Homo sapiens: one gene and its partners. The protein of the gene in region 7 purifies or fractionates together with the protein of the main gene of each other region. This does not show direct contact. Each region holds a gene or a part of one and is shown on either strand. Other genes may lie near its edges.

Evidence for each region.
Region 1: the proteins of SLC40A1 (region 7) and RDH11 purify together in Homo sapiens (affinity purification with mass spectrometry; one large-scale study listed by BioGRID and IntAct). This does not show direct contact.
Region 2: the proteins of SLC40A1 (region 7) and WDCP purify together in Homo sapiens (affinity purification with mass spectrometry; one large-scale study listed by BioGRID and IntAct). This does not show direct contact.
Region 3: the proteins of SLC40A1 (region 7) and NCR3LG1 purify together in Homo sapiens (affinity purification with mass spectrometry; one large-scale study listed by BioGRID and IntAct). This does not show direct contact.
Region 4: the proteins of SLC40A1 (region 7) and NCKAP1 purify together in Homo sapiens (affinity purification with mass spectrometry; one large-scale study listed by BioGRID and IntAct). This does not show direct contact.
Region 5: the proteins of SLC40A1 (region 7) and CLINT1 purify together in Homo sapiens (affinity purification with mass spectrometry; one large-scale study listed by BioGRID and IntAct). This does not show direct contact.
Region 6: the proteins of SLC40A1 (region 7) and EIF4B purify together in Homo sapiens (affinity purification with mass spectrometry; one large-scale study listed by BioGRID and IntAct). This does not show direct contact.

Annotation. Positions count from the first base shown.
Region 1 is NC_000014.9:67,682,029-67,686,164, forward strand, and holds part of RDH11 (retinol dehydrogenase 11), read right to left. Parts: intron 3,177-4,136; coding exon 2,987-3,176; intron 1-2,986. UniProt on the Homo sapiens protein: Retinol dehydrogenase with a clear preference for NADP. Displays high activity towards 9-cis, 11-cis and all-trans-retinol, and to a lesser extent on 13-cis-retinol.
Region 2 is NC_000002.12:24,033,430-24,037,565, reverse strand, and holds part of WDCP (WD repeat and coiled-coil-containing protein), read left to right. Parts: intron 1-4,136.
Region 3 is NC_000011.10:17,354,453-17,358,588, reverse strand, and holds part of NCR3LG1 (natural cytotoxicity triggering receptor 3 ligand 1 precursor), read right to left. Parts: intron 1,939-4,136; coding exon 1,588-1,938; intron 1-1,587. UniProt on the Homo sapiens protein: Triggers NCR3-dependent natural killer cell activation.
Region 4 is NC_000002.12:182,954,462-182,958,597, forward strand, and holds part of NCKAP1 (nck-associated protein 1), read right to left. Parts: intron 3,136-4,136; coding exon 2,996-3,135; intron 2,133-2,995; coding exon 2,001-2,132; intron 1-2,000. UniProt on the Homo sapiens protein: Part of the WAVE complex that regulates lamellipodia formation. The WAVE complex regulates actin filament reorganization via its interaction with the Arp2/3 complex. Actin remodeling activity is regulated by RAC1.
Region 5 is NC_000005.10:157,789,468-157,793,603, reverse strand, and holds part of CLINT1 (clathrin interactor 1), read left to right. Parts: intron 1-1,608; coding exon 1,609-1,901; intron 1,902-2,952; coding exon of another isoform or gene 2,953-2,979; exon of another isoform or gene 2,980-3,004; intron 3,005-3,163; exon of another isoform or gene 3,164-4,036; coding exon of another isoform or gene 4,037-4,090; coding exon 4,091-4,136. UniProt on the Homo sapiens protein: Binds to membranes enriched in phosphatidylinositol 4,5-bisphosphate (PtdIns(4,5)P2). May have a role in transport via clathrin-coated vesicles from the trans-Golgi network to endosomes. Stimulates clathrin assembly.
Region 6 is NC_000012.12:53,019,522-53,023,657, reverse strand, and holds part of EIF4B (eukaryotic translation initiation factor 4B), read right to left. Parts: intron 3,749-4,136; coding exon 3,632-3,748; intron 1,853-3,631; coding exon 1,798-1,852; intron 1,166-1,797; coding exon 1,031-1,165; intron 1-1,030. UniProt on the Homo sapiens protein: Required for the binding of mRNA to ribosomes. Functions in close association with EIF4-F and EIF4-A. Binds near the 5'-terminal cap of mRNA in presence of EIF-4F and ATP.
Region 7 is NC_000002.12:189,574,125-189,578,260, forward strand, and holds part of SLC40A1 (ferroportin), read right to left. Parts: exon of another isoform or gene 4,095-4,136; intron 1,197-4,094; coding exon 1,037-1,196; intron 1-1,036. UniProt on the Homo sapiens protein: Transports Fe(2+) from the inside of a cell to the outside of the cell, playing a key role for maintaining systemic iron homeostasis.

The DNA of each region.
Region 1 (4,136 bases), on a different chromosome or scaffold from region 7:
CCATATTATGACACAGCAAGAAGGCCCTAACCAAATGCCAGGCACCATGTTCTTAGACTTCTCAGCCTCCGGAACCATGAGCTAAGTAAATTTCTTTAGAAATTACCCAGTCTGTGGTATTCTGTTTAGTAACAGAAAACTGTCTTTACTAAAGACAGTAGTAAATCTTTGTGACCTTGGGTAAGGCAATGATTTCTTAGATATGACTGCACAAGTGACAAAAAATAGATAAACTGGACTTCATCAAAATTTAAGTTTTACATTTCAAAAGATACCATTAAGAAAGTTAAAAGACAACCCACAGAATGAGAGAATATTTGCAAATTATATATCTGACAAGGAACTCGCATCTAGACTATTAAGAACTCTTGTAACTCAACAATAAAAAGACAATTATCCAACTTAAAAATGGGCAAAGGACTTGATAGACATTTCCCCAACAAAGAAACAAATGAACCAAAAAGCGCATGAAAGAATGTTCAACATCATTAGTAGGAAAATGAAATGAAAATAAAAACAAGATATTCCTTCATACTCACTAGGATGGCTAAACTCAAAAGGAGAGACAATAACAAGTGTTGCTGAGGATGTGAAGAAATTAGAATACTCATAGACTGCTGGTGGGAATGTAAAATGGGGCAGTCATTTTGGAAAAGTTTGGCAGTTCCTCAGCAGTTAAACACAGTTACCATATAACCCAGAAATTCCACTTCCATGTACCCAAGAGAAATGTCCACACAAAAATTTCTACACAAATGGTCACAGCAGTATTATTCAAATAGCTAAAAAGTGCAAACCCAAATGCCCATCACCTGATGAATGAATAAATAAGATGTGGCAAATCTATACAATGAAATGTTATCCAGCAATAAAAAGAAATGAAGTACTGACACATGCTTTAGCATGGATGACCCTTGATAACATTAAGCTGAGTAAAAGAAGTCAGTCACAAAAGGCCACATACCATATGATTCCATTTATATGAAATGTCCAGTAAAGGCAAATTCTTAGAGACATAAAGCAGACTAGTGGTTGCAGGCAGAAAGAAGAGCCAGTGCAAAAATCTTAAGGCTTCAATCAAAAGACTTTTATGTTCATTTCTTGATGGTGGTCTACACGGCTGCTGTTGGATCTTCAAAATGAATTAAGAATCCATAGCACAGGAAAGGCTCTTCAAAAGTCAATCCAATAGTAAGTTATGGATTTAGAGCTGACTTTCTTTAAACCACTCAGTCAAAACCAAGATAAAGGGTTATTTTTTTTTTTCTTAAAATCTCTAGGGAAGAAGAATCCAGTCACTCTTGGAAAATCAATCCAGTATACTATATAAATCTATCTTCTTATACTTCAGAACCACATTTCCAACTATCTGCTATACATTTCTACTTGCATGCCTTATAGATAACACACATGCAACATGTACAGAGCCAGGTTTGTTACACAGTGGACAACTGTTACTCTTTGGCTGAACATTCTACTTTGTTTCGGCAATAGCAACCTGATTTCCTTCTGCAGAATCACCTTTTCCCCTCAATATAGTTTGAAGAGAGCATTAATAAAGTCCCTGTTTGCCTCTAATCAAAAGAGTAAAAATGAAGGGATAGGAGGAAGGAGATCCAATGCTTCCTCCCTAGAGAATGGATGATAAGCAATACAACCTAAACACTAAAGATAGCTGGCATTCGCTCACTCTAGCAGCAATGCCCCGGCTGGCTGACTGCCACTCTGACACTTCTTAGCCTGGCTCTTCAGTCTTCCCTTTCAACCTAGGGGTCCCTCCTCTCCCTACTAATATTTTAATAAATTTCCTTCTTGCTTAAGCTAGACAAAGTCCCTTTCAACTGCTTTGGAATCCAAGAACCCTAAGTTCCACACATTACTTTTCCATGTCTGCTGTCTTAGTTAATGTCATCATCAACCTCATTCAGGCTTGAAATTCAGGTTAGCAAAGCCTCCCTCATCCCCTCATTTAATTAATCATCCAGTGATAAAAATTCTGCTGCTTCAGGGCCTCTTTCACATTACCATTCCTTTCATTACAACTTTCTGAAACTCTCTCTCTCACTAGGTTAATTATTCATTCATGAAACAAAGTTGCTAAAGCACAGACCAGATTTTGTCTGTCTACTGAAACAACTCTGGGGCTCCTCCACAAGGCTGGCATTATAGGCCTCTCATAATCTGTCTGCCTTTCTTTCCAATCTTAATGCTATTTTCAGCTACTTCCTTAAAATTTCAGGTCATTTCAACAATAACCTGAAGTAGAGGTAAAAACATGTTAAAATTTTGATCTTATGTGATGCCTGGGATTTGCTTCAAAATAATATGGGAGAAGAAAAATATGGAAAGGGGTAGAGAATGGGGATAGGGCAGAATTGGCCATGGGTTAATGGTAGCTGAGGCTCCATTATATGCAGGCTCAGTGCACTATTTTATCTAACCCTGTGTTATATTCAAAATTCTCTACATTTAAATCATTTTAAATGTCTTCGCTTATTTGAGAGGGGAGTCCATAGTATTTCAATCCTGAGGACAATAGAGAAATGCAGATTCAAATTCTTTTTTTTTTTTTTTGAGGCGGAGTTTCACCTGACCTTAGGTGATCTGCCCACCTTGGCCTCCCAAAGTGCTGAGATTACAGGCGTAAGCCACTGCGCCTGGCCTCAAATTCTTTTTAAATTCTTTTTAATGTAAAACAATAGAATTAGGAATCCAAAAAAGAATAAAGAAAACTGGACTGACATAACAAAGACAGGAAGAAAACAAACAGAATGCATAATTATCAGTATAAAAGATGGCATAAAATCAAATGTAGCAGTTATTACAAAAGAGAGTCAAATTCCCCTACTAAAAGGTAAAAACTCTAGAGTTAAAAGACAAAAGCTATATGAGACAATGTACTTTTAAAAAAGGGTATACCCAGACAAACCCAAATTATCTCCTTTGAGCAATAAATCTCATCTGCAAAAAGAGATAACATTCATACCTGAAATGATTCCCACTTAGAATCTCAAGACCTTCTGTTAAGGCACAGTGCAGGCTGGTCTGGGCTCCCTGCTGAGGAGTCTTGATGAAAAAGGAGAAAAGCCACCACATCCATCTCATGAAAGATGAGTGCCGAACCAGTTCAGATTGGACTGTGCCAGGGTGTACAGAATACGTCGTAACGCCAGAGCCTGGTTGGGGGTGGCATGAAGAGAGGGTAAGACAGGACTTGATTTTGCAGAATAGCCCAAAACAGAAAAGGATGTAAATAAGCATGTGACCTTCACATATGGACTCTTTTGCCCATGGTGACATCAGAAGTACTGCTCACAGTAATTTATACTTCCATCTCACAGATCTAAGAAGGCTCTAGAGTAGACAGTGCTAAGGACCTCTGTGTATTTCTGACTGGAAACTCAAGTCAGGAATCAGCAGAGCCAAGACTCATCCTCTCAGCAGCACTTAACATCGTTGACCACCCCCTTCTTTTTTAGAGATGGGGTCTCCCTATGTTGACCAGGCTGGTCTTGAACTCCTGGCATCAAACAATCTTCCCACCTTGGCCTCCCAAAGTATTAGGATTACAGGCATGAGCCACCACACCCACCCCATCCCCTTCATTTTTTTGAGACAGGCTTGCTGTGTTGCCCAGGCTGGAGTGCAGTGGCATGATCTTCCTTCTGCCACTGCCTTCCAGGTTCAAGCGATTCTCCTGCCTCAGCCTCCCAAGTAGCTGGGACTACAGGGGTGCGCCACCACACCAGGCTAATTTTTGTATTTTTAGTGGAGACGGGATTTCATCATGTTGGCCAGACTGGTCTTGAACTCCTGACTTCAAGTGATCTGCCCACCTCGGCCTCCCAAAGTGCTGGGATTACAGGCGCCCATCCCCTTCTTAAAGTCTTCTTTTTCACTGGCTTCCATAAGCCTATGCCACTTCTGGTTTTCCTAACCTTTCTGGCTGCTCTGTCTCAGTTTTCTGGACCAGTTCATCATCTTCTACACAAACATTAAATGTTGGAGTTCTCGTGGCTCACCAGACTCCCTCTCCATAATTCTATGGTGCTCACATTTTGTCCACAGTCCAAACTGCTCCTCTGAACTGCAGACACACTGGGAGTCAACACAATGTGGTGGTTATGGGCATGGAT
Region 2 (4,136 bases), about 170 Mb from region 7:
CTGGGCATGTTATGTTACAGGCAAGTTGGTACACCTTTGCAGGTTGGTTGGTTTTTAGCCTGCCAACCAGATAGGCGCACATATCAGTCTGCATCATGATTTTATCAGGTGCATGACGTGGAAAAATAAATGTCTGCACTAATTCGGGCAATTTATATTTAGAAAAAAAATCATGTTATTTCATTGTGACAACCTTTTCCTTATATAATAGAGATACTCCTCCAGTTATAAAAAAGGTTATGTTGCTGGGCTCCATGGCTCACGCCTGTAATCCTAGCACTTTGGGAGGCCGAGGCAAGTGGATCACCTGAGGTCAGGAGTTCGAGACCAGCCTGGCCAATGTGGTGAAACCCTGTCTCTAACAAAAATATAAAAATTAGCTGGGCATGGTGATGGGCGCCTGTAATCCCAGCTACTTGGGAAAGCAGGAGTATCACTTGAGCCCGGGAGGCACAGGTTTCAGTGAGCCGAGACTGTGCCACTGCACTCCAGCCTGGGCAACAGGGCGAGACTCCGTCTCAAAGAAAAAGGAAAAGGTTATGTTCATTTAAAATGTTTTGATGCATTTCTTTATGCATGCATGTCCAAACATTATATAAGTGGGATCATATTATACATGTTTTTATCATGGACACTTTCCTCCTATATAAAATATGGCCTTGCCCCATCTTCCCCTTAATCCGCTGTAACCAGCAGCTTAACATGGATCCTTTCGTGACTTTCTCCATGGTCACATGATCTAACACAGGTCTTTGTGTACATAGATATATAGGTATGTGGGAATGGTTTGTCATTGTTTTTACAAAAATAGGGTGATATGGTGCACTCTTTACTTCATACTGAGAGTATGCTCTTTATTTAGCCATTCCCTTGTTGATTGACATTCACTTTGTTTTTAGTTTTTAGCTACTCCAAATGATGCTGCAGTAGTACTCTTATATGTATCCATTCATATTAGTACCTTTATTTCTGTTGGATTGGTTCCCAGAAGTAGAAATGCAAATTTGAAGAGTATATGTGTTTCTACTTTTAATTGAGTTACCAGATTGCCTCTCAAAGATTTTTACTTAACAGTGCATCATCACACGCCCGCCAGCTATGTATAAGGCTGTCCTTTTCCTCGTATGTCACCAATCTGATCAGTGACCCTCCTGCTTCAGCCTCCTGAGCAGCTGAGACTACAAGCACATGCCACCACACTTGGCTAATTTTTTTTTTTTTTAGCAGAGACAGGATCTTGCTATGTTGCCTAGGCTGATCATGACCTCCTGGGCTCAAGTGATAGTCTTGCCTCAGCCTCCCAAAGTGCTGGGATTACAGGTGTGTGCCACTGCATGTGGCCCCAACCCTACATTTTTTTAAAGAGGATTTTTGCCACATTAACTACATGGAGTTTTCAGTAGTAGAGTTTTAATTTTTTTTTTTAAGTCACAGCTTTGCTGTGAGGAGCATTTTATTTTATTTATTTATTTATTTATTTATTTATTTATTTATTTATTTTTGAGACGGAGTCTCTGTCACCAGGCTGGAGTGCAGTGGCGCGATCTCAGCTCGCTGCAACCTCCAACTCCCAGGTTCTAGCAATTCTCCTGCCTCAGCCTCCCAAGTAGCTGGGATTACAGGCACGTGCCACCACACCTGGCTAATTTTTGTATTCTTAGTAGAGGCGGGGTTTCACCGTGTTGGCCAGGATGAGCTCAATCTCCTGACCTTGTGATCTGCCCGCCTTGGCCTCCCAGAGTGCTGAGATTACACGTGTAAGCCACTGCGCCCGGCCTAATTTTTTTTTAATTAAAAAAAATTTTTTTTTAACTATAGAGACAAGGTCTTGCTATGTTGCCCAGGCTTGTTTGGAAGTCCTGGGCTCAAGCAGTCCTCCTGCTTCAGCCTCCCAAAGCGCTGGGATTACAGGTGTGAGCCACTGCACCCAGCCATAGTTTTGATTTTTTTAAAATTATTTTATTTATAAATGTGATAACTGGTTTGGATTTCTTTCCTACTATGACTTTTTAAAGAGTTTGTTTTCTTTTTCTTCTGTCTTTTTTTAATAGGTAATTCATTTATTTGGTTTAAAAAGCAAAACTGTATTTTAATAAAAACTGTATACCAAGAACTCTTATTCCTACCCTATGTTTCTTCAGCCTGTTCTCCTTTCCTCCTTTAGGTAACCATTTTTATTTTTATTTCTTTATGCAGATACTAGCAGACTTTAGTTATGTATTTTTATTTCCCCTTTTGTTACACAAAAGGGAAGGTGATATACACACCTTTTCATTTTCCATTTAATAGTATGTCCTAGAGAGCTCTTTATATCAGCACACAGAGCTCTTTTTTCATCTTTTTTTCCACAGCTGCATAGTATTTTTTTTTCCTAATTACAAAAGTAATATATACTTGTTGAGGAAAAAAATTTTACCATTACAGAAAGTAAAAATTTTCCATAATCCAACCTTTAGAGAAAATCACAGATATAGCTAAATATTTTATTAGATGTTAGATGTAAATATTTCCATATTTTTTCTGTACATTTATCTAATCCAAAAAAAATCTAATATAAAAATATATTATTTTTAAAATTTTCTTTAAATAGGCTATTTTACTTGCAAACAATAATATATCTTTCTGTTTTTAAAACACTTATAAATGTAAAATTTTATATTTTTAAAAACTAAGGTTAAAACAACCATGTTTGGCCAGGCACAGTGGCTTAAACCTGTAACCCCAGAACTTTGGGAGGCCGAGATGGGTAGATCACTTGAGTCCAGGAGTTCGAGACCAGCCTGGGCAGCATGGCAAAACCCTGTCTCTACCGAAAAATACAAAAATTAGCCAGCCGTGATGGCACCCACCTGTTTTCCCAGCTACTTGGGAGGCTGAGGTGTGAGGATCACCTAAGCTGAGGAGGTTGAGGCTGCAGTGAGCTGTGATCGTGCCACTGCACGCCAGCCTGGGAAACAGAGCAAGACTCTGTCTCAAAAAAAAAAAAAAAAAGTTTTGTTGCCCTTTCAATTCCTCAGTTTTTTAGTTTATAATTATGTCATCCAACCAAGCTGTTGTCAGTAGTTATCTCTGGAGGATAGAATTTTGGGGGCTTTACTGTCTGCATTATATATTTCTGTTATATTTTTATTTTATTTATTTATTTTTAGATAGAGCTTTGCTTTGTCACCCAGGCCGGAGTGCAGTGGCGCGATCTTGGCTCACTGCAACCTCCGCCTCCTGGGTTCAAGCGATTCTCTGCCTCAGCCACCCAGGTAGTTGGGATTACAGGTGTGCACCACCACACCCAGCTAATTTTTGTATTTATAGTAGAGATGGGGTTTCACCATGTTGGCCAGGCTGGTCTCGAACTCCTGACCTCAAGTGATCCACCCGCCTTGGCCTTCCAAAGTTCTGGGATTACAGGCGTGAGCCACCACACCCGGCCCTATTATACTTTTAAAAAATTGATCATTTATTCCTTTTGTAATGAGAAAAGTAAAAGTTACACAATAATCAAAAGCAAGAAATAGTTTCCCCTGTAATTTCAGAAATTACATTTCATAAGACGTGAAATAAATGATTAGTTGGTTTTGACTTTTACAGTTTATTCCTGTGACTTCATTTAAAAATATTAGTGGACATATTCTTTGAGTGGTTCATCCTACCACAGTGATGTATAGTTTTATTTTCTTTTTATGAGATGGGGTCTTGCCATGTTGCCCAGGCTGCTCTCCAATACCTGGGCTCAAGCAATCCATGCACTCTGGCCTCCCAAAGTGCTTAACAACAAAATAAGTTAGACACATAACTTATACAACTGTCCTTCATTTATTTATTTATTTAGAGATGGAGTCTGTCTCTGTCACTCAGCCTGGAGTACAGTGGCACCTTCTCAGCTCACTGCAACCTTTGCCTCCTGGGTTCAAGTGATTCTCCTACCTCAGCCTCCCGAGTAGCTGGGACTACAAGTGTGTACCACCATGCCTGGCTAACTTTTTTATTTTTTGTAAAGACAGGGTTTTGCCATATTGCCCAGGCTGGTCTTGAACTCCTGGGCTCAAGTGATCTGTCCATCTTAGCCTCCCAAACTTTTGGTACTAAGGGGTGAGCCACTGTGCCCAGCCAATTTTTAATGACTTTAAAATTTACAAATC
Region 3 (4,136 bases), on a different chromosome or scaffold from region 7:
TAGGAGGAAGAGTAACTTTTCAGTAGAGAAACCAGACAAACACTACTTCAACTAGATGGTCAAGGTCAACATCAACAGTCATAAGTCATGTGATTTGATGTGATGAAAATGGCAGTTTACCTCTGCGATGTTCCTCCAAAAACCCATAACCCCAAGTCCAATTATGAGGAAAACAGCAGACAAATCCTAACTTAGTGACATCCTGCAATATACCTGACCAATACCCTCACCAAACTGTCAAGGACATCAAAAATAAGGTCTAAGAAATTGTCACAGCAAAAAGGAGCCTAAGAACATATAACAATTAAATGCAATGTGGTATTCTGACGGGATCCTGGAGCAGGAAAAGGACATTAGGTAAAAACTAAGGAAATATGAATAAATTACACACTTTCATTATAGTAAAATGTCAATATGGGTTCATTAATTATATCAAGGTACCATACGAATACAAGATGTTAATAACAGGGGAAATGGTATGCAGGGCGTGAGTGATATGAGAACTCTCATACTATTTTTGCAATGTTTCTGTAAATCTAAAACTGTCCTTAAAAAAAGTCTATTAATGTCTTTAAAAGCCACTGTTGGCCAGGCATGGTAGTTCATCCCTGTAATGCCAGCACATTGAGAGGCCCGGGCACAAGGATCTCTTGAGGCCAGAAGTTGGAGACGAGCCTGGGCAACACAAGGCCCCATCTCTACAAAAATGTAAAAATTCGCCAGGCATGGTGGCATGCAACCGAGGTCCTAGCTACTCAGGAGGCTGAGGCAGGGGGATCACTTGAGCCCTGGAGTTTGAGGTTACAGTGAGCTATGATTGTGCCATGCTCTCCAGCCTGGGCAACAGAGGGAGACCCTGTCTCCTATGTAGACCCTTTATATAGATATATAAAGCCTAGAAGAACAGTGGCTATATATATACGGCCACTGTCAGTTGGCCGTATATATAGCCACTGTCACTGTTATTCCTCTGTCAGTTGCAGAGGAAGTGAATCCTAATTAATATGCCTCTCACTCCCAAAATTACTACGGACAAAACATTCAAAGTCTTATGTACAATTATGGAGGGCCCATGCTGGGCTGAATTATGTCCTCCTAAAATTCTTATGTCCTCCCAGAATTCCCAGTATCTCTGAATGTGACTGTATTTAGAGATAGGTTCTTTAAAGAGGTAATTAAGTTAAAAATGGGGTTATTAGGATGGGCTCTGATCCAATATGATTGGTATCCTTATAAGAAGAGGAAATTAGGACACAGATATAGGCACAAAGGAAAGACCATGTGAAGACACAGGGAGAAGATGGCCAGAGAAGAGAGGCCTCAGAAGAAACCAATCCTGCTGATGTCTTCATCTCAGACTTCTAGCCTTCCAAAAGTGTGAAAAATAAACATCTGTTGTTTAAAGGCATCCAGTCAATGGTATTTTGTTATGGCAGCCTTAGCAAACTAATACAGCCACCAAGCTCATCCATGTATTATCAGACCATTTTATAATACAGGAAAGTGGAGCTCAAAGAGGTGTGTGGGTTTTGTTGTTGCTAACCCCAACACCATGGGAACTGTAGGGCACTGCCCCGAGACACTCACCCACAACTTCAAGCTGGACTGTTCCCTGTGCCTTCAGAGGGGTGACCACCACCTCACATCGGTACTCTCCTGCTTCCTCCAGCTGGATTCCAGGCAGCCGCAGTGAGGCGTCCCCACTCTTCAGCCTCCATGGAGACACAATGGCTCCAGGTCGGAATGCCTCTTGGTGATCTCCAAAAAATTCAAAGACTTTGACTTCTTTGTCAAACGTCAGACTCTTCCAAAACCAGGTGATACCCATAGACGTGATGTTGAGGGGTTGGGAATAAAAGATATTGCAGAATATGGTGACATTGTCATTCAGGGGTGTGATCTGAGTCCCCCCTGCCATCATCTCTACTTTCAGATCACCTGTGGCAATAAGAGGACACAATGTTCAGTTTACCAATGTATGAACATCTTTTTGAGATGTGCTATGGACTGAATGCTTGAGTCCTCCAAAATTCATATGGAGGCCTGACCCCCAGTGTGATGGTATCTGGAGGCAGGGCCTTTGGGAAGCGATTAGGTCATAAGAGGAAAGTCCTCACGAATGGGATTAGTGCCCTTACAAGAAAAGACATGAGGCCAGGCACGGTGGCTCATGCCTGTAATCCCAGCACTTTGGGAGGCCCAGGCAGGCAGGTCATGAGGTCAGGAGATTGAGACCATCCTGGCTAACATGGTGAAGCCCCATCTCTACTAAAAATACAAAAAATTAGCCAGGCGTGGTGGTGCACACCTGTAATCCCAGCTACTCGGGAGGCTAAGGCAGGAGAATTGCTTGAACCCAGGAGGCAGGGGTTGCAGTGAGCTGAGATCATGCCACTGCACTCCAGCCTGGGTGACAGAGCGACACTCTGTCTCAAAAAAAAAAAAAAAAAAAGAAAGAAAGAAAAGAAAAGAAAAAGACAAGACATGAAGCTGGGCCTGGTGGTTCACACCTATAATCCCAGCACTCCCAGAGTCTGAGGCCAGAGGATCGTTTGAGCCCAGGTGTTCCAGACCAGACTAGGCAATATAATGGGACCTTGTCTCTACAAAAAAATAAAAATAAATTAGCCCAGCATGGTGGTTAGCACTTGTAGTCCCAGCTACTTGGGAGGCTGAGGTGAGAGGATCCCTTGTGCCCAGAAGTTCAAGGCTGCAGTCAGCCGTGATAATGCCATTGCACTCTAGCCCGAGTGACAGAGTGAGACTCTGTCTCAAAAACAAACAAATAAATAAATAAATAAGAAAAGACATGACAGAGAGATATGTCTCTCTCCACCACGTAAAGATACAGCAAGAAGGTATCCTTCTATAAACTAGAAATGAGGCTCTCACCAGAAACCAGATCATCCACACTTTCCTCTTGGACTTCCCAGCCTCCAGAATCATGAGAAATAAATTTCTGTTTAAGCCACACAGTATATATCTGTTATGGTAGCCTGGCAAGACTAAGACAGGACATTTTTCCATTTCATTTATTTAGATTTTAAATTTCTTTCAGCAATATTTTACAGTTTCCAGAGTATATATTTTCTGTTTCTTTCGTTAAATTTACTCATAAGTATTTTATCTTTTGATGCTATTGTAAAGAGAATTTTCTCTTTTTTTTTTGATGTTTTCCTATTTATTTATTTAGAGACAGGGTCTCGCTGTGTCACCCAAGCTGGAGTGCAGTGGTGCTATCACTGCTCACTGCAGCCTCCACCTCCTGGGCTCAAGTGATCCTCCTGTCTCAGCCTCCCAAGTAGTTGGGACTACAGGCACATGCCACCATGCTCAGCTAATTTTTTCATTTTTTGTAGAGATGGAGTCTTACTAAGTTGCCCAGACTGGTCTCTAACTCCTGGGCTCAAGCAATCCTCTCATTGCCTCCTCAAGTATTGGGATTACAGGTATGAGCCACTGCGACTGGCTAGATGTTTTCCATTTTAGAACAGTAGGTTGCTAGCAAGTTTACGCTTATACCTATTCCAACAAAAAGTGCAAGGACAGTTCAAAATATTACATTTGCTATTTCAAAGAAGAGTACAACTCCAAAGAAGTCAGACTCATTACTAACAATGCAGAGCTAGACATCTATATTTAGATAAATGTCAGAAACCGAATTCCCCTTGTTGCCATCAAACATGTCCTTTCATTAGTCACATCCAACATATCTAAATAAAGTTTTCAAAATTAATGTTAACAAAAATGTATCCAAAAACCTGCCAACTTACTCAAAGATTTGTGCAAGTCTATTTTTTAAAATAATACATTAGGGAAACGCGGTGACAAGCTTTCTGTTCTATGTATCAAAGCAAAAACAGACTTGACCTACAAAATGAAGATAGGGTCAACTGTAACCAAAAAAACAGTATGCTTCCCCCTGGTGGCCAACCAAGAAATGGAGAAACCAAGGATATGAAACAGCCAGGCCACCTAGTTGTATTGTCACTCTTAAAAACGAAAAGTGACTACCAAAAAAAAAAAAAAAAAAAAAAAAAAAAGAAGAAGAATTGGGGGGTCGGAGGGAGAAGGGAAAATATCAAAAACACTAACATGTGCTTAAAAGGAATACAAACCTGAGTGCCAGACTACAT
Region 4 (4,136 bases), 6.6 Mb from region 7:
ATCACTAGAAACAGGCCAAGAAGAGCCAACGCAAGATGAAAACTGCTATCCTAGTGTATAATCCCTAAGTCCTAAGACTGTGCTCAGTTGATTGACAAAAACCAACCCACTAATATTCACAAGCTATCTGGCTGGCCAATATGGCGAAACCCCGTCTCTACTAAAAATACAAAAATTAACCAGGCACAGTGGCACACGCCTGTAGTCCCAGCTACTCGGGAGGCTGAGGCAGGAGAATTGCTTGAACTTGGGAGATGGAGGTTGCAGTGAGCTGAGATTGTGCCACTGCACTCCAGCCTGGACGAAAGAACAAAACTCCGTCTCAAAATAAATAAATAAATAAATTAAATAAAATAAAAAATCTTTCCAAGGTAAACAAGCTGTTCCCCTTGCCTTGATCCTAATCACTAAGTAGATGTTTGGTTAAAAAAAAAACTGCTTCTCTGTGGATTAACAAAGCAGACTGTTTACAAGGAAAACAAGGGAGCTGTACACTGAACTCTCCCTTCCACCCACCAATGTCCCACCTCTAACCCACTTGAGAATAATAAACACCACAAGGCACAATGCCCCTTTGGTCTAAGTTCTAGGGCATTCTGGGTTTTACTGTCAGGATGCCTGACTTACTAAGGAGAACAAAAGACAGTTCATCACCAGACTCTTCTCAAGTCAACTGATAATTTAACACTCAACTTAGTGCCACTTTATATACTGTCATATTCTGTTCTCTAATTCTTTTAGTCATCTCACCAGCTACAGTTCTATCTTTATCTCATTATTACCTAGAGTACTTAACACATTGTTAAGCATATAGTGCAAATACAAACACCACCTGTTAATGACTACAGAAACTTTGAAAACCTTTTGGCAAAATTTTGTTTTATAAATTGCTTCAAGGCTTTGAAGAAAAAAATTGTCAAATAAATAAAAATTTTCATGAATAAATATTAATAAATAAGGATGTAACTTCAGAAAAAGGTTAAAACAATATATATAAAGTTGAAAGGTTTCTGACTTATCAATGCACTATTTCATATACATACATAAAATATATATTCATATATAACAGGAAATTCTAATTAGAATTGAGAATTCAAGAATCTAGAATTCTATTGGCTTATTTAACAGCAACATGTGAATTCAGAAAACATGTAAGGGTTCATCTAGTCCTCAGGTCTTCAAACATTTTACTGTGACCTACTGCATGACACGCATCTTAACACTGCAAGTCAATACACATGCATACATGTAACTGAAACATTTCACGAAGCAATATATATATTTAATGCACACAGTGTACTGGGTTTTTTTTCCTATTTTTTCTTCCTCTTGTCCTTTCTTTCCCTCCCACTTTTCTCTAAACTTTGACTACAACCTAATAAACTGATTTCATGAACCTACTGGGTTGCCACCTGCAAGATGAAATACATTGATTTGCTCCAATATTCTCACTTTGTATATAAGGAAGCTATGACTCAGAGATATTAACTGGTTTGCCTGGTGTTACTAGTTAATACTAATAGGTATGAGAAAAGAATCTGGGTATCTTCAGTAATTTTCAGTTCACTATTCTTTGCATTTCCCAGTTCATTATTCTTGAGACAGAGTCTTGTTCTGTCACCCAGGCTGGAGTGCAGTGGCATGATCTTGGCTCACTGCAAGTGTGTCTCCCGGGTTCACGCCATTATCTTGCCTCAGCCTCCCGAGTAGCTGGGACTACAGGTGCCCACCACCACGCCCAGCTAATTTTTTGTATTTTTAGTAGAGACGGGGTTTCACTGTGTTAGCCAGGATGGTCTCGATCTCCTGACCTCGTGATCTGCCCACCTCGGCCTCCCAAAGTGCTGGGATTATAGGCGTGAGCCACCACGCCCGGCCCGGTTCATTATTCTTAACACTAATCCAGTTCTACTAATGCTTTTCCTTATAAAACACTGTATAATTAAATAACAAACTCATTACTGAGTCAACAAACAAAAACAGTCAATATTCTTTCTTACTTGGTAAAGCGTATTTCCAGATGAGAAGTCAAATATTCTCGTGGGGTAAAGGTATGTTCCCATACCACCATGTTTGGTACATAATTTATAGAGAAGCATAACTCAGAAAGTGCAGTGTGCAATTTATCAAGGCTGAAAAAAATTAATAAACAGTTAAAATGTTCACATGTCATCACAGGCAATACAAAATTAATTTTATAAATATATCAACCTTATTTGGAGATAATGCTTAGAGAATTCGACTTTTTATTCTCCTAAACTGAGAAAGTTCAAAATCTTTAAGGTTATAACTAACACATAAGAGCAATATTCTAAAGATGGCGTCATTTGTTTCTACCTTTAGGTAGTAATGAATATACTGACTTAATATACAAAGGTAGAGCTTATTCTGCACTCATAAAGATAATCACGCCCAATTCCTGAAGTACTTTCTGTTATGAGAGAAGGAAAGTTGTCTATAAAAGGGCAATGGCTTGCTCAATTTAGCAAGAAAGTAGGAACTATACTTTAAACAAAAAATATTTACCGAATTATTACCCACCTACACCTCCCCTCCAAACAATGAAGCAAGCAAAGATCCCTGAATGCTACCTGGTCTGTTATTTCTGTTTTATAATAATGACATTGGGTATGTTCTAATATATCAAAAACATGCCAAAATAAAGTCTCCACTATCTAACTTTAAATAAATTAAAAATTACAGATTGCTTATAATGTAACACACAAAATTTTTTAAACATATAATTGGCCTTCAGTACTTAGTATAAAAAGACAAATATCAACTATTACATATATTTTCTTCTAAAGGCCAAAATCTGTATTTTGAGATGAAATAAGCAACTAACAGGTTAATTAAGCTCAGAAATATTTTTTAAAATGGCTGGAAAATGAAGAATATACAATTATTAGCATTTCCTCAGTACTAATGTCAATAGAAAAAAATGAAATAAATATTTTACCTGGAGCAAAAAGGTATAATATAAGTGGATACTTACTTGGTCACAACCAGCCTGTTTTTCCTCATGCTCTCAACACCTGGTTTCTCCCTTTCAGGTTCCCCTTTCTTACCAGTCTGCTTTTTTGATTTCTTATTCACTGCTTGACTGATAGTTTTGGCACAATGCTTGGGTAGCAACTAAATTTAGAAAAGAATGAAATCTTACATTACACCAATTACTCTGAAAGCATACTAACTATTCAAGCAAACAGTAGCTGAATCCAGGCTGTGTTGCAAATATCACAACAATATTAAAAGACAGAAATATAAGTGAGATACAGAGCTTACTTAGCTAGCTTGGGTAATGCACATAGCTTGGTGAAAACAGAAACGGGTAGATCTTGGGTAAATCTTGTGTGAAGAAACACGTCATAGAGTAAATTCATAGACGCTTATTTAAATTACTATTAAAAAGACAAGTAAAAACATACCAGGCAAGCAAGGAATGAAAAAGAATATTTCACTGGAAGGATTAAATGGCCTTTGGAAAAAAACTGTGTAAAGATATGATGGTTCAGAGCTGTAGTTAGAACTACTATGTGGTGGAGCATAACGTGTAAGGTAAAGTACAGAGGTTTCAACTATTAGGAAGGGCCTTGAATGCCAAGCTAGAGGTTGGATTGTAAACTGCAGGCAAAAAGACAGCGACAATTTTTTAAAATAGCCACAGCATGAGGAGACATTTTCTTTTCTTTTCTTTTCTTTTGAGAAGGAGTTTCACTCTTGTTGCCCAGGCTGGAATGCAATGGCACAATCTCAGCTCACTGCAACCTCTGCCTCCTGGGTTCTCCTGCCTCAGCCTCCTGAGCTGCTGGGACTACAGTCGACTGCCACCACACCCAGCTAATTTTATTTGTATATTTTTAGTAGAGATGGGGTTTCGCCATGTTGGCCAGGCTGGTCTCGAACTCCTGACCTCAGGAGATCCACCTGCCTCGGCCTCCCAAAGTGCTGGGATTACAAGCGTGAGCCACCATGCCTGGCCATGAAGAGGTAATTTTCTAAGGATAACTCTGATATTGGCAGAAGAAAACACTGAAAAAGGAAAATTGTAACAGAGCTGCTAGAAATAGTTCAGACAAGGCATGAAAAAGGGATATGAAATAGGCAAGTGTAATAAAAAAATTTTAATGGGCAGA
Region 5 (4,136 bases), on a different chromosome or scaffold from region 7:
TTATGTATATAAAGTTGCCTACTATGCAAATAATTTGAATATGTTAATGTTGCCTAAGTGATACATCTCTTCATCTGTATGCATGTGATTAATATAACCTGACCACCTTACGCAGGGGGCTGAAACCATTGCAACAATGATTAATCATTTCTGAATAATATATGCCCCACTAGAAATCGTTTCCTCCCACGATTAATCATTTCAGATATGAAGTTTTCAGGTGGGGCAACACATTTTGCCCCAGTTTCCATTCATATTCTGCATTATAGATCAAGCAAATAGAAAATCAGCATAAAAGTTTACATTGATCCAGCAGCCTTAGTTTAAATTGTTTAATATCTAGAACTAACTGTAAAACTCTTAATGCAGTCACTTAAAAAAAAAAAAAAGATCAAAGACGTGTATTAGTAAAACCCTGAGGTAAAGAAATTAGCCCAATTTTTATATTAAATTGTTAGTAGAACTTGGAGTTTCTAAGTGAATTATTTTCTCTTTCAAGGGTGCTTACATTTTAATATGGTAATAGAAGAATGTAATTTTAAAGACTTCACCTTATTATTCTCTTTTGATATTTAGCATAATGAGACATGGTATTGTAGTGGTTGGTCACTTTTTAGGCTAGACAAAATGTATTTCCAAGTTGTAAATGAACATGGAATGCAAAGGGATGGTGTTAATTAACTTGGAAGGTACATACTTACTATTTGCTTTCAGATGACGGTTTTTATGTAGCTCTTTCTTCACATTTTGCTTTTTCAACTTCCATTTATGCGTATTTATCTGTTCCTTTCAATATAAAAATTGATCAGAGGTTAATTGATAAGACTGTAGTGATTAAGAGTATGGATTTTATGCATTCAACCTTAAACTTGCAAAGTATGATAGGGTTTTGCTTGTTTCTGGCTTGGTTGTGTTTTTTAATATTACATGAGTTTTCCTCCTCTCTTTGATTGTAAATAAATGGTCCCAGTTGAAGCAGGCAATGTGCTAAGGTTATAGCCCTTGTATTGTCAGTGGAAGTATGGCCAAATAAGTGAGAAATTCTTCATTTTTTTTTAGACGGAGTCTCGCTCTGTCACCCAGGCTGGAGTGCAGTGGCACAATCTCAGCTCACTGCAACCTCCGCCTCCCGGGTTCAAGCGATTCTTGTGCCTGAGCCTCCCAAGTAGCTGGGACTACAGGTGTGTGTCACAACACCCAGCTAATTTTTTTGTATTTTTAGTAGAGATGAGGTTTCACCGTGCTAGACAGGATGGTCTCAATCTCCTGACCTTGTGATCCACCTGTCTCGGCCTCCCAAAGTCCTGGGATTACAGGCGTGAGCCACCATGCCTGGCCATTTTTTTTTATGGTAAATTCAATGTGTCACCTACAGAGCTGCCAAGAGATGGATTTTACGTTATATTTGGGAGGTTTGTTTTTTCTTTGCCACCTTGTTAACTCTCGTGTAATATTTATGAGAAAGAATACTGTCCAGATGGAGATGGTACCTGCAGATGTTAATCTGGGGGACTCAGATCAGCTCTAATTTGTTTCAGTTCATAGATTGTTACATTTGTTCTGTGCATTCCATGAAGTTTCTTACCCTTAGAGTTATTTCTGTCTTAGTAACAGCAACAAGTGGGAATGGAGACTTTGGTGACTGGAGTGCCTTCAACCAAGCCCCATCAGGCCCTGTTGCTTCCAGTGGCGAGTTCTTTGGCAGTGCCTCACAGCCAGCGGTAGAACTTGTTAGTGGCTCACAATCAGCTCTAGGCCCACCTCCTGCTGCCTCAAATTCTTCAGACCTGTTTGATCTTATGGGCTCGTCCCAGGCAACCATGACATCTTCCCAGAGTATGAATTTCTCTATGATGAGCACTAACACTGTGGGACTTGGTTTGCCTATGTCAAGATCACAGGTAAGTTGTCTGGTTCCCTTGGAATTTGTTATTTATAATCTTTGAGATGCTCTAACTCATTGAATGATAGATTAGTATAAAACAGAAAAATAAGCAAGTCCTTTTTATGTGTATGAATATGTGTCTGTGTGTGTATATATACGCATTTGCACATTTCATTTACCTCATACTCTCCCCTAGCATAGTCATTTGCATTCTGGAAGGCAAGACCTTCTCCCCCATCTTGTAGTCACTGTAAAGCCAAGCATGGTGCCTTTGCACAGAGGAGGAACATGGCAAAAATTTATTGTTACAACAAATTGGTACTTGATAGTTTTTTTAAATTGTCTTTAAGAAAAAGAAATAGGCCAGGCGCAGTGGCTCACCCCTGTAATCCCAGCACTTTCGGAGGCTGAGGTGGGTGGATCACTTGGTCAGGAGATCAAGACCATCCTGGCTAACACGGTGAAACCCAGTCTCTACTAAAAATACAAAAAATTAGCCAGGCATGGTGGCAGGCACCTGTAGTCCCTGCTACTTGGGAGGCTGAGTCAGGAGAATGGCGTGAACCCAGGAGGTGGAGCTTGCAGTGAGCTGAGATCGCGCCACTGCACTCCAGCCTGGGCGACAGAGTGATACTCCGTCTCAAAAAAAAGGAAAAGAAAAAGAAATAGAGATATTGTTTCACTTACGGCAAGTATCCACTTAGTAAAATTTCTGGTCATGTCCCTAAAGAAATATCACTCATTGGTTGTAAATAATTATTGCTAATATGGAAAATCATTCTCTCGAATGGTGAATGTTCTTCCCAATTCTGGACCTGCTCTACATTATATAAATGTTTTATAGGCTCATCTTTCAACTTTCATTTTCATAAAGAAAAACAACCAAAATGGGAGCTTCTTAATTCACTATTTTATAGTTAAATCCGAATTACCTAGTACTAGCTTAGAATTCAGACAAGTGCAGGCTTGGAAAATATGTGTCTGAATGGTACCAGGAACTTGCTATTTTTGACTCAAACTATTGAGAATATGTGTTTATGATGCTAATTACTCATTTTAATGTGTAGATTCTCGTCTTTGGGGTATTAGGATGAAGGAAAAGAAGAAAGAAGCAGAAAGGTGACTGCTCTATGTAACAGAAATAAGACCTAATGTATGAGTTAAGCATAAAGTCAGTCTACTTTATTTGCAGTCTTAATTGTAACTGTCATAATTCTTTGCATTGGTACATTTTTAATTATTCTTCCTCTTCCTGTTCCTTTTTTCTGTCCTTTTCAGTTATCCTCAATAACCACTAGGAACCTCTGCTTCTTTCTCCTGAATTTCTTCTTTCTCCTACATTGTTCCATATATTAATCAGTTCAGTTAGTGTTGCTCACTTTAGATAGTAAAAGTATACACAGAACAGCAAAATGTCAGGATATGTGAAATATAAATTGCTTTTTGACAGTTTTGCCTTATATCCTTGTATAATGTGAGACATCATATCCTGAATTCTCTGTTTTGTTTTGTTGTTTTGAAACAGAGTCTCGCTCTGTCGCCCAGGCTGGAGTGCAGTGGCACGATCTCTGCTCACTGCAGCCTCCACCTCCTTGGTTCAAAGTGATTCTCCTGCCTTAGCCTCCCAAGTAGCTGGGACTACAGGCATGTGCCACCATGCCTGGCTGATTTTGTATTTTTAGTAGAGATGGGGTTTCATCCTGTTGGCCAGTCTGGTCTTGAACTTCTGACCTCAGGTGATCTGCCCACCTCAGCCTCCCAAAGTGCTGGGATTACAGGCATAAGTCACTGCGCCTGGCCTCTGAATTCTGTTTTGAAAGAATAAATGTCCACTTGTGTATCTCCTTAAAGCTGTACTAACCTAAAATCGGTAGTTCCCCTGGGCATTTGCCAGGGATGGTGGCTTCTAGACTTTGAGTGATGGGAGAATAATTGTTAGTGTAGGTAAGTTGTTGGTTTTATCCACCTCAAACCTGATTGGGACTTCAGAGGAACCTCTTTGGGAAGCTAATGATTCAGGGTATTGAAGACATTAGCATAGAACATTAGTGGTTCTTTTTGTTTCAGAAGTTCATTGTTGTGATTAAATTGCCATCTGATAATTTTTATAGAACAGATGCTTAATTTTTAGAGCATTTTTCTATTTTCCAGCCTTTGCAAAATGTTAGCACAGTGCTGCAGAAGCCTAATCCTCTCTATAATCAGAATACAGATATGGTCCAGAAATCAGTCAGCAAAACCTTGCCCTCTA
Region 6 (4,136 bases), on a different chromosome or scaffold from region 7:
GACCTGAGATCATGCCATTGCACTCCGGCCTGGGCAACAAGAGCGAAACTCTGTCTCAAAAAAAAAAAAAAAAAAAAAATTTTACATTTTAATTGTTTGCTACAAGCATATAGTAATGCAACTGATGGGCCAGGCGCAGTGGCTCACGCCTGTAATCCCAGCACTTTGGGAGGCCAAGGCGGGCGGATCATGAGGTCAAGAGATCAAGACTATCCTGGCCAACATGGTGAAACCCCATCTCTACTAAAAATACAAAAATTAGCTGGGTGTGGTGGCGCGCGCCTGTAGTCCCAGCTACTTGGGAGGCTGAGGCAGGAGAATCACTTGAATCCAGGAGGTGGAGGTTGCAGTGAGCCAAGGTCACGCCACTGCACTCCAGCCTGGGCGACACAGCGAGACTCCGTCTCAAAAATATATATATATATCAAAAAGTAATGCAACTGATCTTTGTATGCTGCTCTTCACTCAGCAATCATGCTGAACTCTTATTTCAAATAGCTCACTTTGTAGAATCTGTTGGATTTTTTTTTTTGAGACAGGGTCTCGCTCTGTCACCCAGTCTAGACCTCCTGGGCTCAAGGAGTCCTCTTGCCTCAGCTTGCTGAACAGCTAGGACTGCAGGTGCGTACCACCACGTCAGCTTTTTCTTTTTCTTTTTGGTAGACAGGGTCTTGTTTTGTCGCCCAGGCTGCTCTCAAACTCCTGGCCTTAAGCAATCCACCTGCCTTGACCTCCCAAAGCGTTGGGATTATAGCCACCATGCCCAGTTTGGGTTTCTTTATAAACAATTGTCTCCAAAAAAAGAGAAATGTCTGTCCCTTTGTTTGGTTAAGTTTTCAAAAAAAATTATTAATTTATCAAATTCGTTTCCTGCATCTATCAGTTCTTTCAGATACTATCCAAAATTTTTCTTAATCTGCTTTCCTCCTTCTATCTGTTAATGTGATCTGATCATCTGTAACACATTTGTCCTATTACTAAATAGCCTCCCAAAGCACAGAGGAAGCTAACTTCATAAAAACAAACTTACTGTCTCCAAAGCTATCATCACCTCTTCTAGGTGGGTAGTCATCAAAGCTGTCTGTAGCAGGACGAGCCCTCCAGTCTGTATCTGTTTTGTCAGAATCCCGATTTCTATCACGGCCAAAAGAACGATCATCCCTGTCTACAGATACATTAAAACAAAAACCGTAAGTTATCTCATAAAAACTTTGCCCAATATTTCTCACACATAGAAAACCCCCATTTTACCCTATTTTTCACTTTCACGTCACACTGTCATCCCAGTTACCTCAGGCCCCATAAGTACATGCTCCAATTCAACCCCAGGTGGCTCTTTTCCTCCCGTTTTTTCCTATTGGTTTAATGCTTAGCTATCTCAAATTCTGTATGGGCCAGGAGTCCCTGAAACATATACAAATTAGGTCCCCTTTGTGACCAACGTGCTGTTAGGCAGCTAATCTATTTATCATCTATTTAATGTTCATCTAGATCAATCAGTCTTCTCAATCTTGACATGCATTTTGGGCTGCATAATTCTTTGTTGATGGGGACTGTCCTATTCCCTATAGAATTAACCCCTGGATTCTACTTATGTCAGCAGCACTCCCTCCAATTGTGACAACTACAATGTCTTCAAACATTGCCAGAAGTCCCCTGTGGGGCAAAACTGATTGAAAACTGTTACTGTAGATTCAGGCAGGCCCACCACTACCCCTATTCAAATTTTCTGGGAAAGGATGGCTTGGTGTCATCCTGGGACCATTACCAAACAGAAATCTCTACCAGTTTCCTTACCTTTATCCTGTGCTTGATCAGCAACGTCCACTCGAATTCTCCTGTTACCTAGAGACTGAGAGCATAGGACCATATTAACCAACCTTTTGCCCCATTATGCACAAATCCCTTGAGTGACCTTGAACGTCTGGGCATAGCAGAAGCACTAGGGGAAGGAAGATAAAGGAAAACACTGTAATCTAGCTAACACTCCAATTTGTGGGCTAAAGAGTCCTTTAAAAGACTTAAAAGTTAAACAAATTTAAGCTGGCCTTGAATATTAGGTCAATTATACTATTTTTACAAAGCTTAATTTCACAGAATAGAATTAACTTTTTAACTATCCAAGGTAATTTGTCAAGTGTAGTAAATTAAAAATAATTCTCACATAACTAGCTGAATAAAAGGCATATTTGGTGCCACAACAATTATTTATCAAAATTTATAGAAGCCAGGTGCAGTGGCATGTACCTACAGTCTCAGCTATTTGGGAGGCTGAGGCTGGAGGATCACTTAAGCCCAGGAGTTCAAATCCAGCCTGGGCAATATAGCGAGACACTGTCTCTTAAAAACAAAAACACCCAACACATTTATAGAGCCTCTACTACTACTATGTACCAGCAAAATTGCATAAAGCATGCTTTGTCTACAATCTTAGGTTCTTTCACTCAGTATTACCTTCAGATAAATCAGTTCTTCCAGAGATACCCTCTGACTTCCCTTTCCCACATCATTATTTATATACTTTGAACCCAATTAATTCTATTGCTGATTTTTCCTCATTTCATAGTAGAATCTACAGTTGAAGGATAACAATGATTTTTAGTTAAAAATACCCAAAACTATATTAAACACCACTATAATGAAATCTCTAGTAACAAAGTAACTCTTAACTATGGACCACAACAATATATTAATAGTTAATCTAGTAAACATCAAATAGTTAACAATTGCATGGTATTCTTTTTCTTATCCAGACTGAGTAAAGTTAGAGACCAGTAATGTTAATAAAAATCTAAAAATAATCCAGTAAGAGTAACTCTGGAACAAGATTAGACCTTCATATGCATTTAACTAAGTACATTAATTTTTATCTCTATTTCACACTGACTACAGGTTATCATGATGGTAATCAATTATGAGGCAGCAAAACTATTTCTAAGAGGTGTTGATTTCAATCATGTCATATGGCAAAATAGGACTACAGAAATATGGCACAAATGGCACTAGAAATTGCCTTATCAATAAACAATAAGGTGTTTTTGGAGTTAAAGGAGGAAAAAAGTCTTTTTTCTTCTGAGATATAAGCCCCTCAAGTCCTGGGACAGGAAAACCTTTGTGGGCAGTGTTGACAAGCAGAAGGACTAGATATTTATTGTCACTCTCCTGTAAAATATTCCTTTGTAGGAAATGTTTCCAAATCCTCTTAAATGAACAAATATACCATTACAACACTTCCCTGAAAATGAGATATGCCTTTAATACTAAACAAACTTGATTTTTCTATTTGCCTTTATCAGGCCAGATTACTTTGAAAAAGCAATGCCATAAGAGTTGAGGCAACACTGTGGGTAAATCAGTGTAAGACTTAATTAGAGACCTGGTGTGTGGTGGGTTTCTTCCACAACTTTCCACCTAAGTACCTATCTAAATTATTGGGGCCTACTGAATTTGCTGAAGTGTGACTTGCTAGATGTTCGATGTTAAGTGATACACTGTTAAATAATGCAGGCCTTTATTTGTAGATATGGGAATCTTTGAAGTGAGCCTCTCAACCTAAAAAATACCAGTTTGATCAATAAACATGAGATTTGTGAACTTACACCCCTCATATCCCCACTCTTATTTTCTTTACCTCTTCATTGAGACTCAGGGCACTGAGCAGGGAATCCAGGTCCTCAAATTCAGCATAACCAAAACCTTTCAACCTCTCTGGATTGCTGGGTTCACGTGGTAAACGCACTGCACTGATCTGAAGGAATAAGAATCAACAACAAAGTTTCCCAGCATTCTTCTTCATTTGTCATTTTTTGAGAGGACTACAAAAGCATTACTGTATGTGCATGAATTTTTCTGAATACACAAGAACATGGTTGTCTCAGGAGGAAAACTGATGCAGAGGGATAGTAGAAACTTTACTAAATGCCCTATTATACCTTCTGAATTTTGAACTGTATGAATTTAACTCTAAAAAAAAAAAAAAAAAGATTAATTCAGGCCAGGTGCAGTGGCTCATGCCTGTAGTCCCAGCACTTTGGGAGGCCGAAGCAGGTGGATCCTCTGAGGTCAGGAGTTCAAGACCAGCCTGACCAACATAGTGCAACCCTATCTCTACTAAATACAAAAAATTAGCTGGGCAT
Region 7 (4,136 bases):
AGGATAAGTGGGAAATTGTTATCCTACCACACTTTTCTTCATCCAATTCAATATTCTTTCCTAATCTATGATTGCAGTGCTCAACAATCATTAGATTAAAAGTTTCTATGTATAATATTCCTATGTTCCTATGTATAATGATGCAAAGAAGTAAATTTTTTTCTAGATTACAGAACTTTTCTCTATATGTGTTCTGGTCTACTCATTCTAAAAACAGAAATATGTTCACCTTGACCATTTTCCTAGTAGCATCAAGTCCTAGAATTTGATAAGCCTGTTGCTCTGTGTCCAGAAGCAGTCATCTCGCACTGAAAGAATGAAACCTCAGTCTTTTGCCAACATCTAAGTCAGGCATGGTCAGGTCTTGGCATTATCAACTGAGCAATTCAAGAAAATTTACCCTGAATGATCATCCATATTTCCCTTATATACTGGAAAATTTAATTGATCAATTACTTTCTTTCCTGTATAAAATGACATGATTTCAGTACTAATGCTTAGAATAAATATCAAGATATTATTATTTCTTCTTTTTCCCTACAAAATTTATAATTCAGCTCTTTGTGATCCAGGCTCAACTATTCTGCCTTGAAGCTATTCTTAGTTTTCAATTCCCTTATACATACTCTTACATGAAACATAGTAACCAAAGAACAGATGTTAAAGCTGTCTCAGGAACATCACACTAAAGGGACTCCAGTACAAGATACAGTTAGGAAGCCTGAGTTAAGCAAACTTTTAATGTTTAACATGGTTCTCAGAGAAGTGCTACAAGGTTAATCATTAACATATGAAATTTATGAACAGCCAAAGATACAAAAAAATCTATTAGGTCAATGTCCAGGCATCCCAACTTTGTGTGGGAGCCATGGGACCCTCCATCCAGAGGTGGTGCCATCTAAGCCCTCCTCCCTCAAGTGTGGCATGCAGACATTCCCTGGTTGTTTCTCTCCTAGTTTGTTGTTTCCTTTGCTACAGAGGTAGCTCAGGCATTGGTCCCATGAATAAAAGGGCTTAATTATATAACAACACTCACCTTTAAGTCTAGCATTCTTGTCCACCCAGTCACCGATGATGGCTCCCAGGACCAGAACAGACCCTGCCACCACCAGCCCGTAGACTGCTGTCAAAAGGAGGCTGTTTCCATAGAGCTCTACCAGAAACACAGACACCGCAAAGTGCCACATCCGATCTCCCTTAAATGAAAAGAGAAAATGTTTTGATGGAATATTTTTCGTTTCTAGTCTATTGTACTCAGGAAGTTGCTTCCTTATCAAAAGGGCACTTCCTGGCTACATTATGAGACTTTCAAAGTCAGTAATTACTCTTAGATTGAATACTGCTCAGATGTTAAAACGTTCATCCCAGCACAATGGAAAATATTCTTGCCCAATTATTAAGTAAACTTGAAAAGGCATGATATTAATGAACCGCACATTCTCTTTTTCATTCTAGAAACAAAATGCAGTTTCCAGACCCAAGATGGCTTTTTGAGACAAAAACGTGTTCTCCTGTGTGTCAGGTTTCTCCTGGGGCCTGGAATTTGCCTATCTTGATTGCAGAGGCATAAAGTAGTTTGCTATTGAACCAGAAATCAATTACAGTACAGTTCACAAACATTAGTATACCTTGAGCATCAAGAAAAAGCCAGTTTTCCAATTTGTAAAATGATGGGAATGGACCATATGATCTCCAAGTTTTCTTTCATGTCTAATATCCTAAAACCTATGAGATTTCATAAAGTCATAATTCGAAAGTCATAAAACAGCAGAGCGATTGGAAAGAGGAGTAGTAACAGCAAATTCTGGCACTGCATAAACAGTGATGTCAGAAATAAACTTAAATGCCTAAGTAAGTAGTTACGTTAACATTTTAATACAGATGAGTTTTGAAAGGGGGAAAAAGCTACTTATTTCTTCACACAAACTCCGGAGAATATAGGGAATTTTGGAGTTCATTACCGTGAAATGTGATTTAACAGAAACTTTTAAGTGAATTAGGCAAATTAATGTCTTAAAAAATCTACAGTGGACCTTATTATGAGATTTTAGGCTCCATCCCTGACTTCTGAAATTAACATTAAGGAGGACAACCATGTTCCATCATAACTTATCTCTGGGAATCCCTATAGGAAACCAAATTCCAGGCCTCATAGATTTGACCCTACAGAAATACTTCTACTCCTAGTTCTTCCCAAAGTCTGTTAACATCTTCATGAAAAAATCCATGTATTAGAAGCAAATACTATCCTGGTATGTCAAATAATTTTAAAAATTTAATGAAGCCAAGATAATAATTTTATACATTCAAAACTTAAATTGATGCATGTTAGCAATCATTTACAAAAAAACTTCCTGTAGACCAGTAGTTCTCAACTAGAGATGACTTTGCTTCTCCTACCCCCACCCCACCTCCCCGGGGATCATTTGGCAATGCCTGGAGTAATTTTGAGTTGTCACAACAGCAAGGGGGTGGAGCTGTTACTTAATCTTTAACCTGAAAAGCAAATTTAGATTTGATTAGGATAAAATGGGATAGGGAGAGGGGAGATACTTTATTCTAATCTCCATTCCTCTGAATAGCTCCCAAGGAAAAGACAAAAACACACACATGTCCCAAATGATAGGTTGCCTCTGTCAGAGAGTTTTCTCTTTCTTAACATACAGGTTAAGAAACACTTTTCTAATACTGTTGTTTCTTTCTTTTTTTCTTACTCTTATTGTATTTTTTAATTGTCTTAGAGTCCTCTAAAGCAAGACATCAAGACAAATGCTATTAAAGTTTTGAATCTTGCTTTTTCTTGCATGCCATACCACCTCTTTGATGGAAAGAAAGAAATTGCTCACATTACCCCAATTTCCAACGGGCTTAGGCTTTAAGAAGCAACAGATTCTATGTTTACAAAAAGCCCAATATTTGGGTAAAGTCTATGTAAATATTGACCAAGTGCCCATCCTTCCTTATTTCCATTTCTTGCCTTCCCACCAATTCTCACTAAACTTGGATGACCTATTTATGTGTCCATGTACCCCCACGGGACTGAGAGCTGAAGGCAAACCTAATAACTGTCAATGAATGATCATGGTCCTCAATCCACTTAATACTTACTAAGTGGCTACTATGTACCCGACATTTGCAAGCACTAGAGCTTCAGCAGCGCACAAAAGGTTTTCATGCAGCTCACATTCCAGTGAGCACAGACCAAAAGCAAATCTAGCACAGGGCACGTGCTGCTATGAGGAAATATAAAGTAGGATGGAGCTGGTGGCAACAAAGGCCTCCATGAGCAAAGTGAGCCTCTGGGAAACGAGGGCTGGAGAAATGCAGACATATTGGGGTTTAAATGGAGAGAGTTTGTAAGATCATGTTATCAGATATAAGCAACTGGCCCCTCTTTTTCACTGTCTTACACTGTCATCTTTTTGTTATTAGATATCTTTTTTAAAGCCCATACTAAATTGTATTATAAGCTCCTTGACAATAGTATCCACTTTTTTTTTTTTTTTTTGAGACAGGGTCTTATTCTGTTGTCCAGGCTGGAGTGTAGTGGTGTGATCACAGCTCACTGCAGCTTCAAACTCCTGGGTTCAAGCAATTCTTCCACCTCAGCCTCTCAGTAGCTGGGACTACAGGTGTGTCTCATGACACCTGGCTAATTTTTAAATTTTTTTTTGCAGAGACAGAGTCTCCCTATGTTGCCCAGGCTGGTCTCAGACTCCTGGGCTCAAGGAATCCTCCTGCCTCCCAAAGTGCTAGGATTACAGGCATGAGCCACTGCACCTAGCCAGGATCCACTTCTTACACTATATTGTATTTTGATAATATAGAGTAAAATGCATTGATCCATTGGCAGATAGAAATGAAGTCAGAAATAAAAGGCATTCAACCCCACACAAAACTAACCTGAGGCAACCTTCTACTCTAATGCCCCTACGTTCAGTGCATAAGAAATCATGACTTGGCAGGGTGGGACGGAAAATGCATATATATATAATACATATACACACACACATAATACAGAAACATAAATGTTTTGTTGTAACAAAATCAGGCAGAGTGCCACACAAGAGAAAAAACATAAAAAGCATAATTACCTAGTGTTAGAGACATTCCTCTTTTGCACTCCTTTGCAGCGG